Regions from separate parts of the Homo sapiens genome. Here region 2 is linked to region 1. A link means that fine-mapping ties the variant in region 1 to the expression of a gene that starts in the linked region. Tissue or cell type: pancreas. Region 1 holds a variant in brackets; the other region holds the start of a gene. All regions are shown on one strand. Distances are between the middles of the regions.

Region 1 (5,000 bases):
GGTCTTGATCCCTTGACCTCATGATCCACCCGCCTCAGCCTCCCAAAGTGCTGGGATTACAGGTGTGAGCCACTGCGCCCGGCCAACTTTCCTGCATTTTTGTGTGGGTTTGTCATTTTAATAACGTCAATATTTAAAGGCCCTTAGTAATGCAAATGTGGCCGGGCACCGTGGCTCATGCCTGTAATCCCAGCACTTTGGGAGGCTGAGGCAGGCGGATCACAAGGTCAGGAGTTAGAGACCAGCCTGGCCAACCTAGTGAAACCCCATCTCTACTAAAAATACAAAAATTAGCTGGGCATGGTGGTGCACGCCTGTAATCCCACCTACTCAGGAGGCTGAGGCAGGAGAATCGCTTGAACTGGAGGTGGAGGTTGCAGTGAGCTGAGGTTGTGCCACTGCACTCCAGCCTGAGCGACAGAGTGAGACTCCATCTATAAAAAAAAAGTAATAATAATAATAATGCAAACGCTTGAGCCAGATCGAGGATATTCTACTTTCAGACTTTTCTTATTTTTTCCAGACACAGTAGCATAAAAATATCACTTCTGTCTGTTTTGCTCGGTTCTGAACCTAGATGGAGTGTTTGATGATGTCTCTCTGAACCTCAGAGACGTCTCTTAGGCTGACCTTCACCCAGGCGAGAAGCACTCCCTCAGCAGAGCCAGCCCACGTGCACTCGCCGAGCTCCAGGCCTGGCGCTGGCTACCTGCCTCCAGAGCTTTTTCTTCAGGAACACTCCTTTTCTGTGTGGTATTTTCAGTGTTTCTCAGTTTCAGTATGATAAGAACAGGAGCATAAAATGTTTGGGTTTGACTCTTGAGGAAAGCAACTCTGATCATGTTTTTCTTTCCAGAATTGTGGTGGTTTTGGACTCCATGATTAAGGTGTTCACATTCACACACAATCCCCATCAGTTGCACGTCTTCGAAACCTGCTATAACCCCAAAGGTGAGAGATTGAGCAGACGGGTGGCGATGGGAAATGGGTCCACATGGAGATGCCTGTGCTGGGCACTCCCTTCTCCAAGCAGGTCTCTGAGCAAAGTGCTTGGCGAGAGCAATCCTGAGCACAGAGGGGCCTCCAGAGGAGATGGACCTTCCAGGACCCACAGCTCAGCATCCCCAAACTACCTTCTGACCAGAGTCACAGAGTGGGGGCCCCTGTCCCCTCCCACCCAGTGACTATGGGCTCTCAGAACCTCCACAGTGAACCAGGAACCTATGTTTTCACCACTTCGGGAGCCACTGAGTTCTGGACTCAAGCCTTTCCTTCCCTTGTCTTCTGAATTGGAGGATTGATTGTGTTTGACTTTGTCATTTATTGTACCATCTTCATATCTTTTTATATTGGGGGTTTTGCCTCTGGCTTTGTTAGGGTAAAATTTACAAAAAACTGACTCGTTTTAAGAATACCATTTGTGGCCGGGCGCGGTGGCTCACTCCTGTAATCCCAGCACTTTGGGAGGCCGAGGCGGGCGGATCACAAGGTCAGGAGATTAAGACCATCCTGGCTAACACGGTGAAACCCTGTCTCTACTAAAAATACAAAAAATTAGCCGGGCGTGGTGGCGGGCACCTGTAGTCCCAGCTACTTGGGAGGCTGAGGCAGGAGAATCACTTGAACCCAGGAGGTAGAGGTCGCAGTGAGCCGAGATCACACCATTGCACTCCAGCCTGGGCGATAGAGCAAGACTCTATCTCAAAAAAAAAAAACTTCAATAAATTTCCGTCATTGTAAACAGTTGTGTAGCCACCGTCACAGTCAAGACAGAACAGTCGGCCGGGCGCAGTGGCTCACGCCTGTAATCCCAGCACTTTAGGAGGCCAAGGCGGGCGGATCACGAGGTCAGGAGATAGAGAGCATCCTGGTCAACGTGGTGAAACCTCATCTCTACTAAACATACAAAACTTAGCTGGATGTGGTGGCGGGTGCCCATAGTCCCAGCTACTTGGGAGGCTGAGGCAGGAGAATTGCTTGAACCCGGGAGGCGGAGCTTGCGGTGAGCCGAGATTGTGCCACTGCACTCCCGCCTGGGCGACAGAGTGAGACTAAAGAAAAAAAGAACAGTCTCTTCTCCTGGAAAACTTTCTTGGGACAGTCCCCTCCCCACTCAACCCTCAGGTTTTGTTTTTTTACATGTATTTGTCCTCTGTGTGTGTGTATGTGTGTTACTTTGTTGGTCCCTTCGGCCGTGTTTTGGCTATTAGGAAGGAGGAGTGTCGTGCATGTTCCCATAGCAGCCTTTGTGTGGGTAGTTTCATGTCTCTTGGGTCGATCCTGAGGGTTCGACTGCCCGGTCACAACCATGTTGTGGTTGTGTCTGACTATAAAATGCGGCCGTTTATTTTCCAGAGTGGCTGTGTCCCCTTGCGTCTCATCCATGATTTATGAGTGTTCCAGCATTGTCGGTCTTTCTAGCTGTAGCCGTTCCGTGCGTGTGTGATGATATCTCACTGGTAACGGCATCTCCTTGTGGTTTTGGTTTGCATTTCTCTGAGGACTGGCGGTGGCGACATCTTTCCCTGTGGTTCTTCCCTTTCGAGATCTTTTGGGAAGTGCCCCAGATGTTTTGCCCATTTTTTAGCCGGTTGTTTATCTTATAATGAGATGTAAGAATTTTTTTTTTTTTTTTTTAATATGAGATGGGGTCTTCCTCTGTTGCCCAAGCTGGAGTGCAGTGGCATGATCTCGGCTCACTGCAGCCTCTGCCTCCCAGGTTCAAGCAGTTCTCCCACCTCAGCCTCCTGAGTAGCTGGGACTACAGGCACACCACCATGCCTGGCTAATTTTTGTATTTTTAGTAGAGACGGGGTTTTACCATGTTGGCCAGGCTGGTCTTGATCTCCTGACCTCGTGATCCACCTGCCTCGGCCTCCCAAAGTGCTGGGATTACAGGCGTGAGCCACCGCGCCCAGCCCCATTTTTTTTGTTTGTTTTTTTTTTTTTTTTGGAGATAGAGTCTCGCTCTGTTGCCCAGGCTGGAGTGCAGTGGTGCGATCTCAGCTTACTGCAACCTCCGCCTCCTGGGTTCAAGCGATTCTCCTGCCTCAGTCCCCCAAGTAGCTGGGATTACAGGCACCCGCCACCAC[G/A]CCTGGATAATTTCTGTATTTTTAGTAGAGACGGGGTTTCATTATGTTGGCTGGTCTCAAACTCCTGACCTCAGGTGATCCGCCTTCCTTGGCCTCCCAAAGTGCTGGGATTACAGGCGTGAGCCACTGTGCCCGGCCGTAAGAATTCTTTATATGTTGTAGATTTAGCCTTTTCCCTGGCACACTTTTGCAAGTATTGCTAAAAGATTTCTTTTATGTTTTCTTCTACACATTTGGTAGCTTTTCATCTAAAGTTAAATCTTCGATCCATTTCAAGTACATTTTGTATTCAGAGTGAGGCACACGCCTGGGTTCCTTTCTGTTCTATGTGGATATCTAAGCTTGGTACCTTTGTTTTGATTAAATAAATACAAGGTTTTTTTTCTGGACTTTTTGTTCTCTTCCATTGATCTGTGTTTCTGTCTTTATCCCAGTACCATCCTGCCTTGATAAGAGGTTTAAAGTAAATCTGAAATTAGGTAATATAAGTCTTGCAATCTTCTTACTTTACAAAAAAAAAAAAAATTTTTGGTCATGCCTGTAATCGCAGCACTGTGGGAGGCCAAGGCAGGTGGATCACAAGGTCAGGAGATTGAGACCATCCTGGCTAATATGGTGAAATCCCATCTCTACTAAAAATACAAAAAATTAGCTGGACATGGTGGCAGGTGGCTGTAGTCCCAGCTACTCGGGAGGCTGAGGCAGGAGAACGGCGTGAACCTGGGAGGCGGAGCTTGCAGTGAGCCGAGATCACGCCACTGTACACTCCAGCCTGGGTGACAGGGCCAGGCTCCGTCTCAAAAAAATAAAAAATTTGGGCTGTTCCAGTGCCTTTATTTTTCCTTATAATTCTTAGTATCAGCTTGTCTTTCTTCAAGAACCCTTTCTGAGAGGTTAGCTGTGATCACACTGACTGTAGATGAGTTAGATAGTAATAGCCAATCTTCCAGCCCACGATCACAAGACCAGCTCTCTCTCAGATCTTCTGTGGTCTTCCTTTGCAAGATGTTACAGTCCATGGATAGGTCTTGTACATCTGTTAACTTATTCCTCCGTTTTTTAATATTTTTACGCTGTTGCTGATGGAGCAGCTTTTAAATTTTATAATTTTGCATTGCATTTTCGGTGGCGTGTACCCTGACGGACGGACAGTTGGTAAAGTCGTTAATTTTGCATTGCATTTTCGGTAGCGCGTACCATGATGGATGGACAGTTGGTAAAGTTGTTCAGCAGATGTCTTGATTATGAGGAGGTCTCATGCGAGGTAGCTTTGCTTAGCCCTCTCATACTCTTTATTTACAATGAAAAATCTTTAAATTGAATTTGTGGTTCTGATATTTATAAATGATATACATCTATTTTTTCGGAGAACTTTGGGGGCAGAAAGTGGACTTTGGCTGTGAGAAATCAAAGGCAGTTCTTGATTGGTGTCCTCTGTCTCCACGCAGGCCTCTGTGTCCTTTGTCCCAATAGTAACAACTCCCTCCTGGCCTTTCCGGGCACGCACACGGGCCATGTGCAGCTTGTGGACCTGGCCAGCACGGAGAAGCCACCCGTGGACATTCCTGCACACGAGGGTGTCCTGAGCTGCATTGCACTCAACCTGCAGGGAACAAGAATTGCAACTGCATCCGAGAAAGTAAGTGTGCCACTCACCTTGTTGGTGTTGTGCCTCCTGGAGCAGCAGGCTCAGCAAAATGGCCATTCCCTGTATCAAGACTCAAAAGGCAGTGGGCCTGCCCCAACCTGGAGCCCCTCAGGGGCCTGTGGACCTGGCTGGTCATGTCATCAGACAGGTTGAAGTCTTCACAGGTCGTCTTGTGCCCAGGGACTGGTTTTATTTCTAATTATTTACAAAGCAGTGTCTTGTAAAATATGATAAGCCAAAGAAACAGGGCCAGGGGCAGT
Region 2 (5,000 bases), 25 kb before region 1:
ATATGTTGTATCTTTAAACAATACATCGTTAGGCCAGGTACAGCGGCTCACGCCTGTAATCCCAGCACTTTGGGAGGCTGAGGCAGGCATATCCTTTGAGCCTAGGAGTTCAAGACCAGCCTGGGCAACATGATGAAACCCTGTCTCCACTAAAAATACAAAAAATTAAGCTGGCATAGTGGTGTGTACCTGTAGTTGCAGCTACTCAGGAGGCTGAGGTGGGAGGATCTCCTGAGCCCAGGAGATATATACATATATATATAAATACATATATATGCGTGTGTGTGTGTGTGTGTGTGTATAATTTCTATTCTCTCCACCCCCAGAGGTGAGACTCTGCTTTCTGCCTGCCTTGGAGAAGGGTGGGCGAGATGAGCCGTGTCCCTCACTCCAAGTCACACTTCAGGTCTTCCACGTGGAGACCTCTGAGCTATCAGTGGACGGCGGGATTCCTGGAGCTGCTGGAACAAAGCCCCACAGGCTGGTGGCTTGGACAACAGCCTGTGTTCCTTCCCAGGCTGGGAGGCTCTGGGGAAGAACCGTTCATGCCTCTCCCGGCTCCTGGTGACCCCACGATTCCTGCACTTGCTGACTTAGGGCTGAGCACTCCAGTCCCACTGGCTGCTGTCCCCTGTATCTCCTCCATTCCTGTCTCCTCCAAGGGTGCCGGTCACCAGCTTTAAGGCCCACCCCAAATCCAGGATGATCTTATCTCGAGATCCTTAATTACTTCTGCAATGATTCTTTACCTAAAGAAGCCCCTATTCTCAGGTTCTGGGTGGACCTATCTTTTTTTTTTTTTTTTTTTGCGACAGAGTCTTGCTGTGTTGCCCAGGCTGGAGTGTAGTGGCACAATCTCAGTTCAGTGCAGCCTCAGCCTCAATCTCCTGGGCTCAAGCCATCCTCCCTCCTCAGCCCCCCAGGACACATCTTTAGAGGGTCACCATTCAACGCACTGTGGTGGGCAAGGCTGCTTTGAGTTTCCTGGTTAGGATACAACCAGCGCTGTGTGTGGATGTCCACACATGCCCCCGCCCCCGGCTGTACAGCCACCGGGAGACTGAGTAAAATGTGAACTGAAGGAGGCCCCAAGGGTGGCAAGCAGAGAAATGAAGGGAAATGTCCCTTACCCACGCCTCTCTCCTTCCCCCACGTGACACTTCTCACAGCAGGTACCGGTACGTGTGCACAGAGGAGAACCCAGTGCCCTTCAGGGAAGAGGGTGCTGAGCCCCTGGACCGCACTTAGGTCTCGCCCCAGCTCTGTGATTTGGACCTGGGCCCCCGAGCCCTAGTCACAGCCGGGGCGGCCCAACTCGCTCCGCCATCGGAAGGCTTCTGGTCGCTCTCAGGGAGGAGCCCCTCTCGTATGGGAATCGAGGTGTTCAATGCCCACGATGCGGAGACCGCCTGGCCCGAGTGGGCCAGTGATCTCAGCTTACAGTCCAGCTCCTTCCTCCCCATGGCTAAGAGGTCAGCACCAGCTCAGGCAAGTGGCGAGGGTGGGATGAGGATGACAGACGGGGTGGAGGCAGGTGGCTGCGAGGGGACAGTGTCAGGACCTCCTAGGAGATCAGGTGTGCTGCAGGGAACAGGGAGAGCCTAGGAGGGGACAGGAAAGTGAGGAGGGGGAGTGGAGAGGACTCCCTGGGCAAGAGACACGAGGGCCAGCACTCAGGCCTCCACAGCCATCCACTGCATGAGCCAAGCCCAGGGACAAAGCTCTGTGACCAGGATGCCCCCAGCAGCCTGACCCTAAGAGTTGAGAACTGTGCCCTGTGAGCAATGTGACCTGAGGGTCCCGGAGTCCTGCGGGGGCTGTGCTGTGTGAGGGCCACCTGTCCTTTAGGTGGGGTACTAAGGGGTTGTGTCCTCTATGGGCTGTGTCGTGGGGGGGCTGTGTGTCCTCTGGGGGGCTATGTGTCCTGGGAAGGTCCCTGTGTCCTGGGAAGGTCTCTGTGACCTGGCGGTCTGTGTGTCCTGGGGGGGCTGTGTGTCTTAGGGGGACCTCTGTGTCTTCTGGGGGAATATGTGCCCTGGAAAGGACTCTGTGTACTGGGGGAGGCTGTGTGTCTTAGGGGGGCTGTGTCCTGGGGGGGTTTCTGTGTCCCGGGGGGGCTGTGTGTCCTGGGAGTGCTGTGTCCTGGGGGACCTCTGTGTCCTGGGGGCACTGTGTGTCCTGGGGGGACCTCTGTGTCCTGGAGACTGCGTGTCTTGGGGGTCCTCTGTGTCCTGGGGGGTCTCTGTCCTGGGGACTGTGTGTCTTGGGCACCCTCTGCGTCCTGCAGGAGCTGCGTGTCCTGGGGGGGCTGAGTGACTTGGGGGCCCTCTGTGTCCTGGGGGTCTCTGTCTCCTGAAGGGGGACCCTAGTATTGTGGCGCTTCTGGGCTTGCCTCTCATGAGGGATGATGCACCGGGCCTCAGTTTTGGGTCAGCCTCCTTTACCGGCTCTCCCCCCTTCCTCCGACCGTCAGGTATCCGTGCCAAGCCCTCAACGGGCCATCCTCCTTCCCGCGGCGACCCCGCGCATGACAAGGCCAGACCCTCCCGCGAACGTGCTCTGCGCTCCCGCCTGGCCCCTCCCCGCCCCGCCCCTCCCCCTCCTCCCCGCCCCGCCTCGCTCCGCCCCTCCCCGCCTCCGCCCCGCCCCGCCCGCCCTGCCTCTCCCCGCCTTTCCTCGCCTCGCCCCGCCCCGCCCCGCCCCCTCCTCCCCGCCCCGCCTCGCTCCGCCTCTCCCCGCCTCATCCCGCCCCGCCCGCCCTGCCTCTCCCCGCCTCATCCCGCCCCGCCCGCCCTGCCTCTCCCCGCCTTTCCTCGCCTCGCCTCGCCTCGCCCCGCCCCGCCCCTCCCCGCCCTGCCTCGCCTCGTCTCGCCTCGCTTCGGTTAGATGCGCTCGGCGCTCCATAGGCTCCCTGGTGGGGCGCGGGCGCGCGCACGGACGTCCAGCACGCACGCACGCACGTCCAGCACACACGCACATCCAGCACGCACGCACGTACGTCCGGCACTTCCGGCCGCGGCGGCCTCAGCGCCGGCCCGAAGGGACCAGGCCGCCGTCCCCAGCGAGAGGCATGCAGCGCTGAGGAGCGGCGACCCAGCACGGCGGCGCCATGAACCTCCTGCCGTGTAACCCTCACGGCAACGGGCTGCTCTACGCCGGCTTCAACCAGGACCACGGTGAGGAGGCGCGGCCCTGTCGCCTTGCCCGGCCGGGCCTTCCCGCAGCCCGGGGTCCCCGGCTCTCAGGCCTCTCCTGGGCGCCCCTTTCCGGCCAGGCCTTCCACCCGGGACCCCGGCCCCGCCCGAGCTCCCCTCCGAAGCCCCCGGCCCCGGCCCTCGCCGCTGCTCCCAGCCCGAGCCGGGGTCCGGACCAGGCCCGAACCGGCTCCCACCTTCCTGGCCTTTCGCGCTCCCCCACCCCCCGGGTTGTGACCGCTCCCAGCCGGCCGTCCCGGGCCGAGGTCGAGGTCGGTGGGAGACGGCACAGAACCCCAGCCTCCTGCGCGGACGCCCCTCCCCGCGCGCCACGCCCACTCGGGTTCCCTGGCTCCCTGCGGGCTCCACGGTTATCGGGATTTTCCCCACAGCGTGATTGACGCCCTGCCCAGAACCCCGTTTTGCCCCCTGTTCCTTTCAGGGTCTTTAGTAGGTAGCCCGTGGCTGAGCTGACTTCGCTTGGGTTTACTGGAGCCGCGGAGCCGGCGTCTCCGACGCCTCTGGTGGCGAGTGGCGCGGGTGGGGTGCAGGTCTCACCTTTCCCGTCGGTTTCCATCGGAAAATGTCACTCTCCCCACCCCCACTCCCCGGGATTTTTCTTCGTGTTTGGTGGAGTCAAAGGACTTAAGGGAGGCCTTTGAGGGAAATCTTACTTCTTTTCCCATGTCGGAATCCAGGTGTAAGCACTGGATGATTTAAAGCGCCCAGGGAAGGTGACCTCCTTCCCCGCAGGTGCTTCGGAGCTGCGGGGGATGCGGCCGGGGCGGCGCGGTCGGATTCCCGCGGGAGGCGGGCGGGACCTGGATTCGGATGGTTGCCTCCTCACCTCCCATTTGAAGGGCGCGCTTCCCAAAGGTCCTGATGGGGAGGAAAAGGAATGTCCGTTATTCCGAGACAGGCTTCTGCGAGGCTTTACATGTTGGCTTTGGAAGTTTTGTTTTTGAAGAGAATCCAGGCAGGTGCTGTATGATCCCGTATATGTGAAGACAATTTTATTTATTTATTTATTTCATTTTGAGACGGAGTCTCATTCTGTCGCCCAGCCTGGTGCGATCTCGACTCACTGCAACCTCCTCCTCCCGGGTTCACGCCATTCTCCTGCCTCAGGCTCCTGAGTAGCTGGGATTACAGGCGCCTGCCTCCACGCCCGGCTACTTTTTGTATTTTTAGTAGAGACGGGGTTTCACCATGTTGGCCAGGCTGGTCTCAATCTGACCTCAGGTGATCCACCCGCCTCGGCCTCCCAAAGTGCTGGGATTACAGGCGTGAGCCACTGCGCCCGGCCGGATTACACATATTTGAAAGAACTCCCTCTCAGTGATTTTGATGCCTGATGCCCTGGGACCAGTCAGGCTTCCTGGGCGCTGCCAGCTTCCCCAGGGTTGTGTGCTGGGGTTTCTCCGGAAGAAAGTTTTGCTGAGATGGTAAGGGAGATGCCTAGCCTTCTCAGAGGGTGGTTTCCAACCATCTGGTGTTTGTAATGCCTTCTTTTTAGTGAAGTGTGCTATACCTGTAGAAGGGTGGATATATCATAAGTGTTCAGGTGATGAATTTTCCAAACTACACACCTGTCACTAACAATTAAGAAATTGAATATACCTGGCCACGCTTGATTCCAATAAATGCTCCCTACCTGACTTGTGACATCATAGATTAGTTTTGCCTACTTCTGTACTTTATTTTTGTACTTATTTTTGTTTCTAGCTGTTTTTTTGTTTTGGGTTTTTTTTTTTTTTTTTTTTTTTTGAGACGGAGTTTTCGCTCTTGTTGCCCAGGCTGGAGTGC

The links. PIP is the estimated chance that this variant, and not a neighbour inherited with it, causes the effect.
Region 2: it holds the start of WDR45B, and the variant in region 1 is fine-mapped to the expression of WDR45B in pancreas (GTEx, PIP above 0.99).

Annotation. Positions count from the first base shown.
Region 1 is chr17:82,621,340-82,626,339 of GRCh38, reverse strand. It overlaps WDR45B (WD repeat domain 45B), which reads left to right. Exons shown (of 10, transcript NM_019613.4): 5 at 857-951; 6 at 4,541-4,731. Among named protein-coding and RNA genes, the nearest start is that of WDR45B, 25 kb to the left of the region's middle. The variant G/A (reference allele first, on the strand shown) is at 3,093.
Region 2 is chr17:82,646,450-82,651,449 of GRCh38, reverse strand. WDR45B (WD repeat domain 45B) reads left to right here and starts at 3,006. Exons shown (of 10, transcript NM_019613.4): 1 at 3,006-3,176. The coding sequence starts at 3,110. RefSeq lists enhancers at 2,414-2,483, 2,862-3,361 and silencers at 2,774-2,843, 3,444-3,493, 3,504-3,553.